Homo sapiens: one gene and its partners. The protein of the gene in region 3 purifies or fractionates together with the protein of the main gene of each other region. This does not show direct contact. Each region holds a gene or a part of one and is shown on either strand. Other genes may lie near its edges. The genes, in order: KIF26B, DIAPH3 and KATNAL2.

Region 1 (3,655 bases), on a different chromosome or scaffold from region 3:
GCACAGCAGGTCTCCTCTCGCCCCCGGCCTCTGCACGGGTGACTCAGTGTGGTCCACACACAGCCAACATTCTCCCAGGTGGCTCAAGAATCAAATACAGCTTATTTTATGTATAGCTCAAGGTGATTTCTCAGCCTCCTGCCTCCCATCCCACTTTATGTCCAAAGAAGGCTTAGTCCATTGGGCAGCCTTCTGCCTGCTCTGCAGACACGCCTCTGGCAAATTCCATCAAGACGCTACTGCTTCTGTCTCAGGGTTAGCACTGGGCTCTCCTTGCCTAAGTCCTGGGGGGTTTGAAAGATCCTGTGTGCCCTACAGCAGCCCTGTCCTGCCACCCCCTCTGGCCCAGGAGGAGCCCCCCGCCCCCCGCAGAGTTGCTGGGGACCACCCTGGAACAAGTGACAGCTGTTGGAAGTGTGGTTTTTCAATTTTAGTTTAGGAGAGAAAACTGATTTCCAAATACTTGGGTTCACTGTGCTGCTGAATAACAACATTCACGGCCCAGGTGCCCACCGGGAGGCACGCTGCCCCGAGGGCTGCAAAGCCCCATGTTAGCACTGCCTCCCGGAGCTCCCACGAGCCCTGACTCCGGCCCCGAGACAGAAATGAAAGCAACAGGGCACAGCGAATAATGCTATCTTTCTGCTTCTGTGACAAGTCTCAGGTGCTAAACAAAGAGAAGGACATTTCCCAGATCTCCAAGTTAGTCCACAAAACCGACAGCTCTGATGGCTCGCAGAGCTCTGTATTAGCGGGTGTTCAGGGGAAATACAAAACATCATCGAGAGCCTGGTCCCTGTCTAGGATTTAATAATCAAATTGGAGACCAGACACACACACCCGGCCAAAGAACACCTAATAACATACCATGTGGTGACTGATACTCTATATGTTGAATGTATCTGTAGCAAAAGGAAGAAAAGGCAGGTTTTGAAAAGAGGAGCATGGGACGGGCGCAGTGGCTCACGCCTGTAATCCCAGCACTTTGGGAGGCCGAGGCGGGTGGATCACCTGAGGTCAGGAGTTTGAGACCAGCCTGACCAACGTGGTGAAACCCCCTCTCTACTAAAAAAATGCAAAAAATTAGCCAGGCATGGTGGCACATGCCTGTAATCCCAGCTACTCGGGAGGCTGAGGCAAGAGAATCACTTGAGCCCAGGAGGCGGAGGTTGCAGTGAGTTGAGATCGCACCATTGCACTCCAGCCTGGGCAACGAGACTGAAACTCCGTCTCAAAAAAAAAAAAAAAAAAAAAAATGAGGAAGGTGTGAATTGAAAATGAGGAAAGAGATCAGGAGAGAAAGCAGATATATATCACAAACCTCTTGCTTACGTGAGAACTACGGTGTTTCTCAAGGTCTCACTTGTGAAATGGTGGGTCACCTTTTTCCCTCTCATAAGCCTGGCCTGTTTAATAAACTCTATGTATACGTGTGTCAGCAGAGGGTGAGTGGAGAGTTTAAAGACCTTATCCGGGACCCCAGAATGGCAGATGAGGGAAGGGAATGAGGTTCATGAGCACACTGTGCCCCCATTCCAGCCTGCTCCTGCCTGCTCTACAGACGCATTCGCTGAAACGTACCACGGATTAGCAGAAGGGTGGTTTGCAGTGCATGTGCATAATGCTCAGGCTTGCAAAGGGCGGAAGGTCGCCAGGGGTTCTGAGCATCTCCAAAACTTCACGACAGAGGCCAACCCACCTGGGAACACAGTGACACTGGGACCCGAAGCCCCAGGAAGGTGGGCTCACTTTCGTTGTTAGTGGTGTCTCCGCTGCGAGGTCCATTCACGGCTCGTGTCTCCTCTTGTGTCTGACAGGCTGAAGTGTGTGCAGGCACCGTGGCAGAGGTGATCCAGTCTGTGGTCAACGGGGCAGATGGCTGCGTGTTCTGTTTCGGCCACGCCAAACTGGGTTCGTGAGAGTTTCACTTTCTCATGCGGCTCGTTGAGCTCCCTGTCATCCCATGCATTCCTCTGTCTCCCTCCCAGAGTTCTCTGATGACAGGAAGGGCTGCGTTTCTCTTAGGTGTTGAGCTGAATAACCAATAACAAGTTATACGACGAAAACCTATGTTGTTCATTGTAGGTGGACACCCATTCATGTAGGAAAGCCTTCAAGTCCAAATAGATGGAAAGAGAAGTAGCAGAGTTGTTCCCACTTGGTCCAGGTCAGAGTCAAGCCCAGAAGGCAGGCAGGAAAATATTCATTTCCTGAGCAGCCGCTGTTTGGGAAGCAGATAGGGCCCCTTGCACCACCGCACCCATGAGGATGTGGGTTGGTGGTTGGACCCCTGTAAAAGCCAGAGGAGCAACCTCCAAGCAAAGCCCAGAGCCCAGGGCGCGTCTGGAGAAAGCAGTGCACACCGTCGGGAACACTCCAGCGCTGAAGCGTCTGGGAAAGGAGGCAGCAGAGCCCCCCAACAAGGGGTTCATAAATCCCCCCACAGTCCCATCTTACTTCTGACCTGTGGCCATCTGCTCCCCAGGCCTTGCCCTTACACGCTTGATATGTTTAGTGAATTGAGGAGCTTCAAAAACTGTCCCTTGGCAGAGATTCCAACAGAGGCCTTGCTGGAGCTCACAGAGGCCAGTTCTCAGCCAGGACAGAAAGCCATTGCCTCTCTCTGCACTTCCGTCCTCCCCAGCCCTTTCTCTTGATCTTGATGTAAGCAGTGATCTGGGTTTTAATAGAATTTGCTCATGCCATAAAAATATACACAGCATTTAACTTGAGACAGGATATAAAGTGTGAATATGTGGACTTAATCTGGGGGGTAACTATAAAAAGAACCATAATGATGATGAAAAAGCCCAGCCTTCCCACTGTGTGTAAAGCAGTGCAGGAACTGGATAGCATGTGATATTTGGGGTCCTCCTCAAGGTACATGGTGATTTAATCTTGTCACATGTCTGGGCTCTTGCTTTGTTTCTTTTTTTTTTAAGAGATGGCTCTCAGTTGCCTGGGCTGGAGTACAGTGGCATGCTCATAGATTACTGTAACCTCCAATTCCTGGGCTCAAGTGATCCTCTCGCCTCAGCTTCCCAAGTAGCTGGGGCCACAGGCATGCCCCACCACACCCAGATAATTTTTAAAAATTTTTCATAGAGGCAGGGTCTCCGTATGTTGCCCAGACTGGCCTGGAACTCCTGGCCTCAAGCAATCCTCCCATCTTGGCCCCCACAAAGTGCTGAGGTTACAGGCATGAGCCACTGAGCCCAACCAGCATTCTTTATTGTAGCCATTTAGTTAGTAATACCAGAAAATGCCTTCTGTTGTTGTCAAATACTATTTCTCTCATCTTTTTGTTCCTTCTCTTCCCTTTTCCCCCCTTCCCTGTGCCTTTCTTCTATATCCTTGGCATCTATTTTGGAGACTCCGTGGAATGATGCCTGGACACTGAACCTGCTTTTCTTCCTTCCCTGGTTCTCCCAGGAAAATCCTACACCATGATCGGAAAGGATGATTCCATGCAGAACCTGGGCATCATTCCCTGTGCCATCTCTTGGCTCTTCAAGCTCATAAACGAACGCAAGGAAAAGACCGGCGCCCGTTTCTCAGTCCGGGTTTCCGCCGTGGAAGTGTGGGGGAAGGAGGAGAACCTGCGGGACCTGCTGTCGGAGGTGGCCACGGGCAGCCTGCAGGACGGCCAGTCCCC
Region 2 (3,078 bases), on a different chromosome or scaffold from region 3:
CCCAAGTCTGCAAAATCACATTAAGAACTGATAGTGAGAGTTCTTTCATTTAAATTCTTTCCTAAACAAAACAATCCTGCCTTGTTGTTAGGGGTGCCGTCAGCTTAAATATGTAAATGTCCTTCACCTTTCTTGATTTTTAAGGTTTGTTTTCAGAAAAACAGGAATTGCAACTGGATGGCAAAATGCACATTTCAGCAATACATACAAATTCACATTTATTCCTACACTGGCTACAGAGAATACTCTGTTCTCCAATGTCTATAAACAGGGCCTGGCTCATAGTTCTAATTAATTAACTTTATTAACTTAGAGCTGAAAGGAGGTGGCAACTTAAGGAAATAAAAAGCAATAGACCTTGCCCGACTAGTTCCATATAACTGCTTTTTAACTGAAGGTAAAAGAACAGTCACTTACTTATTACATGTAATAAAGCAAAATAGATGCTTAGACAGACTGCATAGCACAGTCTATTCTCAGCTTATCCACAGAATGTTTTCAAAAAAAGAGAGACAAAAGAAAGCATTTTTTTTCATTTAGTGCAAGTAGCAAGTTTATTTCCTTTGATATAGAATTAACAGAGTAATGATGCCCAAATGAGGTAATATTACATTTGCTTAGGAAAACTTTCCTTGAAACACTTATTTAGATCTTTGTTAAAGTTATTGATTGTCAGATCAGAGAAATTGCAATCCCAAGTTTATTCATAAAATAAAAAAAGTTGTTACTTTGGAAATTTCAAAATGGCAATTTTATCTCAGAGTCATAATTACAAGGGGAAAAATACTCTCTTAGCCAAGATCAAGAATTTCGGCAGCACTGCAATTCTGTTTACATCCACGTTACACAAAAGCACATGCATTTGGCAAAGAGAGTGCATACATTCTTATTGCATCATTTTTCGTTATGTGCTCAATTGCCTTATGGTCCCCTAGAGGGTCTACTTAACATGAATTCAACAATGATGATAATGGGGTCACCAGTCATTTCCTTACATATATAGCTCTGATGTATTCAATTACATGTTTTTGATGTTGTGCTGGTAGTATATAGATCCCAATTAAGGAGAAACTTGGGCCTATATAAACAATATATATGGAATATACATGGATATGTAAAGACTTGAGGTTGATGACCTGACATCCATTAATGTTAAAAATAGTAAAGTAAAAATTCCAGTGGCTTAGAAAGATGGTATTTTCTTAAGGACACACTGCTGAACACATGGCCACCTACCTGCTCTCTAAAGCAATATGTATAATTTAACCACCAAATAAAGAACTGAGGAATACCAGGAGACAAAAAAAAAAAAAAAAGGATTAAAGCCCGGTACAATCTTGAATAAACCAAAACCTCCAGTACATAGAAAAAGCATTGCAATCATATATTTAGCTTTATTTTTCTAATATATATCATAATTTAAAACTATATAAAGTCACTTACATAAAAGCAATTTTTTCAAGTGTTATAGTTTAGAGCATGGCTTTATATTTGGCTTAATCATTTTTTTTAAAAACCAGTTTAACTTATAAAGCTCGTAATCTTGCCAGCAGGGCTTCAACTTCGGGAACTGATTCATTTTTAGAAAAAGAGCCAAGAAGTTCCGTTTCCTTTTTTCTGTTGCTTTCTACATTACACGCTTCCTTCTTCTCAGCTGCCTTGATCCTCCCAGTAGACGTATGAGTGTCTAGATTATAATTAAGCTCCTTGGCGACTGGAGTCCTTGTTGAGTTGCAATTGATATTGTAGTGTGAACGTGACCCTTCTGTCAACTGCACTTTCTGATTTTCTACAGTAAGGAAAAAAGAAACATAAAACTTATCACCATGATAACCAAGGACTGTGCACGTTATGAAACACATTTAAAATAATTATTCTCAATAAATAAGTAGTCTTCTTAGATAGACTAAACAAAGAAACAGTCAACAGAGTAAGACAGGTTTAAAATAATCACACAGGGGTTTAAGAATAAACTAAAATATAACAGCCAACCGTTTCATTAGCACTAATGCCCATTTCCTTCTTCCTTTATGCCTGACATGCCTGTCACGTGGTTATTATCAGGGCCTGGTCCCATATTTCTTTCAGGTCTCTGTTCAAACACCACCTAAAAAGAGAGGCCTTCCCTAGCCACCCATCTAAAATAGCATTTGCCCTTTGCACTGCTCTATCCTTCCCCGTCATGTTTTCCTTCACAGGGCACATGATGGCTGGACACACAATATATTTGCTCACTTGTCCATTGTCTGTCTTACTAGAATGTGTGCTCCAAGACAGTAGGGACATTATTTTAAATACTGCTGTAACTTCAGGGCCTAAAATGGCCCTGGTGCAAAGTAGGTCCTCAATAAATATTTGTTGGATAAATAAATAATTTCCACACTCTGTGACACAAGATTAAACATTAGCTTGAATAATAATGAGATTAATTTCCTTTTTGAATGAAATCAAGAAGGAAAGTTTCTAATAAGAATTTAAAAAGTCGATTATTTTCCTTTAAAGAAACAATGAACTTGGCAAGCAAATAATTAAAACTTCCTAGCAAACCAGAATGTTATATGTAATTGTCAAGTATATACACATCTATACATACATGCATGTACATATATACATACACACATACATTCTTTTATTGGTAAGTGATGGTAATGATGACTTTTAAAAAACAGACACCCTCAATATTCATGTAACCTTGAATGGGGCTTGAAAATGGCTTCAACAAACCTGACATGACATTTAAAGTTTTTTGGTTATTCTCTGAGAGATGTTCCATTGTCCCAATAGTAATGACTTTGGAGCACAAGCAGTCACTCATGACAGTGTGTTTTATGTGAGTGCTGAAAATTCCAACTGAAAACAGCTTGTACATTAAAAGGTGGCTGCTGAAGATATTTACTGCACTGTCATTTTCTGACCAGAGGCTTCCAGTGATGGATGAGGATTTTACACACTTTCTTGGACAATCTCAACAAATTTTAGAAGTATGATCACCTTTTAGCTGCTGGAAGAAAATAAATACACTTTGTCTTTCACCTTCTATATCAGGTGGGCAACTGTTACTCAAAAATCAAAATCTAA
Region 3 (3,655 bases):
GTGGACATTGGTGGTGTTATCGACATGTGTGGTCTTGCTGGCCAAATAGTTGTGCATTTATATTAGACATGAACATTTATTATCCCCATAAAGAAAGGAAGTTGAAATAGCAGCTCTCTGAGATCACTCTGAACATGGGGAGACTTGCTTCTAACGAACCTTCTGCAAATGCATCTCACATATGGGGACAAAAGTGCTAAGAGAACTAAGCAACAATGTGGGAGTTCATGTTCTGCCCCCACAAGCTAGTCCTGTCTCTCTCTGGATGGCATCTTCTACAGAAAAATATGGATATTCCAATACTGAATTTTATATCTAATTATGAGGATGTAGTGAAAAAAGTGATTTGATCTTTCTATGGATATATAACATATATACAGTCATACCACATATATAACTATGTATACAGTAAATGTATATACTCTTGTAACCACAGTTACAGCCACCGGCAAGCTACCTTTGCCCCTTCTCAGTCAAATTCTCCCCATCTCCATCAGAGTTAGCTACTCTTCTGACTTCCAGCCCCATCAGTTTGTTTTGTCTGAAGTAAACAATTGTTGATGAAAATTTGTTTGGCAAATATGATTGGTCTGGGACAACATTGATGAAGGGAAGTTTGTTTTCCTTCTGCAATCCCCTTTTGATGTTTATTACTCATAACATGCTGAGAGGTATTTTAAGTAGGCAGGGTATATCCAGGACACTGGATTAAAACCATGGGGCCAATCCCTGGATTTCCTACTGTTTCTTAGTTTGAATGGGAGGACTCCTTTCTCTCTCACACCTTTCTCCTGGTCTAATGCTCCTTTTAAGGAAGGTGGAAGGAACAATGGAAGAATGCTTGTAAAGTAATGTATTCTTAAGAACTAAAGCTATTTGCAGAAGGGCCGAAGCTATGTGGTGTGAAAGGGAAATGAAGAGGGTGAGTTGGGGGGCTCGAGGAGGCAATCTTAGAAGAACCCAGTGAGTAGCCTGGAGGGTGTTAGGGCCAGGATGGACCTGGTGGGTGGATCACATAGGTGGAAGGGCCCTATAGTTGCCACCTGCATATCTTTCAATAGCTTTCTTAAATGTGCTATTCTTAAGAATAGTTGTTTAACTACCTCAAATTAAGTGGCTAGAATAATTTCTTCCAAGGTCTTTGTTCCCTCCCTTAGGATGATGAACGACAGTTGTCAAAATCTTCCCAAGATCAATCAGCAGAGGCCCCGGTCCAAAACCACAGCGGGGAAGACAGGGGACACCAAATCGCTCAATAAGGAGCATCCTAATCAGGTCAGGATGGCTTGGCTTGACTTTGTGAACAGCACACTTGGCTGAAAAATAGCCCTATGAAAAAGGTCACATTTATTTATTTTTTGAGGACCTACGCTTTTAAAATTGCTGTGTGATCTAATTGAATTTTAGGTTTTCTTCCAGTACACTGGACTAAAACCATGGACATATCCCTAGATTTCCTAATGTTTCTTAACTTGAGTGGGAGGACTTTTTTCTCCTCCAAGTTTTTCCCCTGGTCTGGGTGCTGGGTGATTGGCCAGGGTGGGGCCAGGGCCCAGTCAGAGCGGGAAGGCCTGGTTGCCTTGATCCTCCCATCTGAGGTAACTATTACCTGAGGTAACTGAGCTAACCAAGATGGCAGGTCTTCCCATCCCAGAGCACATTGCTAGGTTCCTAAGTGTAGGCCAGGCATAGCCTACACTACATTTCAGGTATGGCTGGGTCTCAAGGTCTCCTGTTGGGCTCCTCCAAATCGCACATGGTCAGCCCTCACCCCAGACCTTCATGCTGGACTTCCTGGGGGCCAAGAAGGGCAGCAAGGAGAGAATCCAGCAGGTGAGAGAAGTCAATGGCTCCTGACTCAGGAGGCTCATGTCCAGAACCTTCTTAGTTAGGACTAAACATCCCAGGTTTCAAAGGAAAGAGGACCAATGGAAACTGAGAAAAGGAATTAAAAAAATTAATGTCAAATAACGGAAAGGTATAATCACAATATCCGATTGGTCAAAAGGATTCTCTCCCCCTCAAGGAGGTCCTACGGTTCTGGCCGCTGCAGCCTGACTCATGTGGAAGAGAGGTGAAGGTGGGGCAGGATGAGTCCCATGGGAGGCTAGTTGACTCTGCCATATCTCCAAACTCAGCCACTCCTGGCCAAAAACACCCCTGATCACAGGAGAAAAGACGAGCCAGCGAATGGGGATGGGTTGAGGCACAACTGTTTGAAGCACATTGGAAAAGCTGCTTGGGGCCCATGGGGCCTGGCATCTTCTCAGTCTTCCAGGGACAACTCTTTCCACATAGTGCAGGCAGACAGCTACTTCATCTTCCTGGGTCTGCACAAATGTGGCTAAGCTACATGTGCATGTCGCGTTCACAGAATTGCTATCCAGCATCGGACTTTGCTTGATGGAGTAGGCAGGTACATCCAGCAACTCTCCATGGCTGCTCACAGCCGATGTGTCCTTGTCTCTCTTTCTTCAGGAGGTAGTTGATAACACTCGCCTGGAAAGTGCCAACTTCGGCCTACATATATCAAGAATCCGTAAAGACAGTGGAGAGGAAAATGCCCACCCACGAAGAGTAAGTGAAACTCATGAACCTAACACTGAAAGTGGTAATTTCTTTTTCCTTTTAAACATGAAAACAAAAAACATTATTTTTGTCAAACAGGAAAGTTAAGATGTGATTTTTGAAGGTTGGCTGTGAGGTAAATGGAGAAGAGCGTCAGAAAATGGGTTCTTCTTTGGAATCTCCTTTCTGAATGAATGGGCTGGCATGAACTGCCCCATCTCTAAGGAACTCAGTTTCCACATTTGTAAATTGAGGGGCTTGGAAGAGATTGTCTCTAGTGTTCCCATCAGCTTAAAAATTCTGTAATAACAATGACAAACATTGGCATGATCATCCTGCATCGTTCTCATCATTTTTTTTTTTTTTTAAGAGACAGGGTCTTGCTCTGTCACCCAGGCTGGAGTATAATGGTGCAATCATGGCTCACTGCAGCCTCAAACTCCTGGGCTCAAAGAATCCTCTTGCCTCAGCTTCCCAAGTAGCTAGGACTACAGGCATGCACCACAACATCCAGCTAATTTTTTTCATTTTTCTAGAGATGGGGTCTCACTATGTTGCCCAGGCTGGTTTCAAACTTCTAGCCTCAAGCAATCCTCCTGTCTGGGCTTCCCAAAGCGCTAGGACATCTGCGTTATTTAGTGAGTTGGAAACGCATACTCATTCTGCTCTGTCCTGTCAGTGGCATTTGATTAGTGGTGTCACCTTTCTCCTTGGAGGGATGGCTCCTGGTCTAAATGTAATTTCATGTGGACCATGAAACATCAGTTGATACAGGGTTGATTTTGTCCTTGATAGATATTTTTACCTTTTTCATAATGAATCTCATGTCTAGATTTCTAAATAATAATGTCTTAAGCAGAAAAGACCCAGATTGGGTGGATGTAGTCAAAAGGTAGATTAAAACATGTAATTTGGAAATGAATTGCACCATATTGCTCTTGGTCATACTCTCCAAGGTTGTAGTTCTTTAAGCTTCTTCTTTCTTCAGCCAAGTGCTCAAACCTCTGGAGTGCTGACTTAGTTCTGGCCAGCTCTTAGAAAAACTGAACTCTGTGTGTGTGAATTTGGAGGGGTGACTGGAGCATAT

The links.
Region 1: the proteins of KATNAL2 (region 3) and KIF26B purify together in Homo sapiens (tandem affinity purification; one large-scale study listed by IntAct). This does not show direct contact.
Region 2: the proteins of KATNAL2 (region 3) and DIAPH3 purify together in Homo sapiens (tandem affinity purification; one large-scale study listed by IntAct). This does not show direct contact.

The regions. Positions count from the first base shown.
Region 1 is NC_000001.11:245,605,834-245,609,488, forward strand, and holds part of KIF26B (kinesin-like protein KIF26B), read left to right. Parts: intron 1-1,817; coding exon 1,818-1,911; intron 1,912-3,432; coding exon 3,433-3,655. UniProt on the Homo sapiens protein: Essential for embryonic kidney development. Plays an important role in the compact adhesion between mesenchymal cells adjacent to the ureteric buds, possibly by interacting with MYH10.
Region 2 is NC_000013.11:59,665,058-59,668,135, forward strand, and holds the end of DIAPH3 (protein diaphanous homolog 3), read right to left. Parts: intron 1,790-3,078; coding exon 1,527-1,789; 3' UTR 526-1,526; downstream 1-525. UniProt on the Homo sapiens protein: Actin nucleation and elongation factor required for the assembly of F-actin structures, such as actin cables and stress fibers. Required for cytokinesis, stress fiber formation and transcriptional activation of the serum response factor.
Region 3 is NC_000018.10:47,057,078-47,060,732, forward strand, and holds part of KATNAL2 (katanin p60 ATPase-containing subunit A-like 2), read left to right. Parts: intron 1-1,157; coding exon 1,158-1,275; intron 1,276-2,478; coding exon 2,479-2,577; intron 2,578-3,655.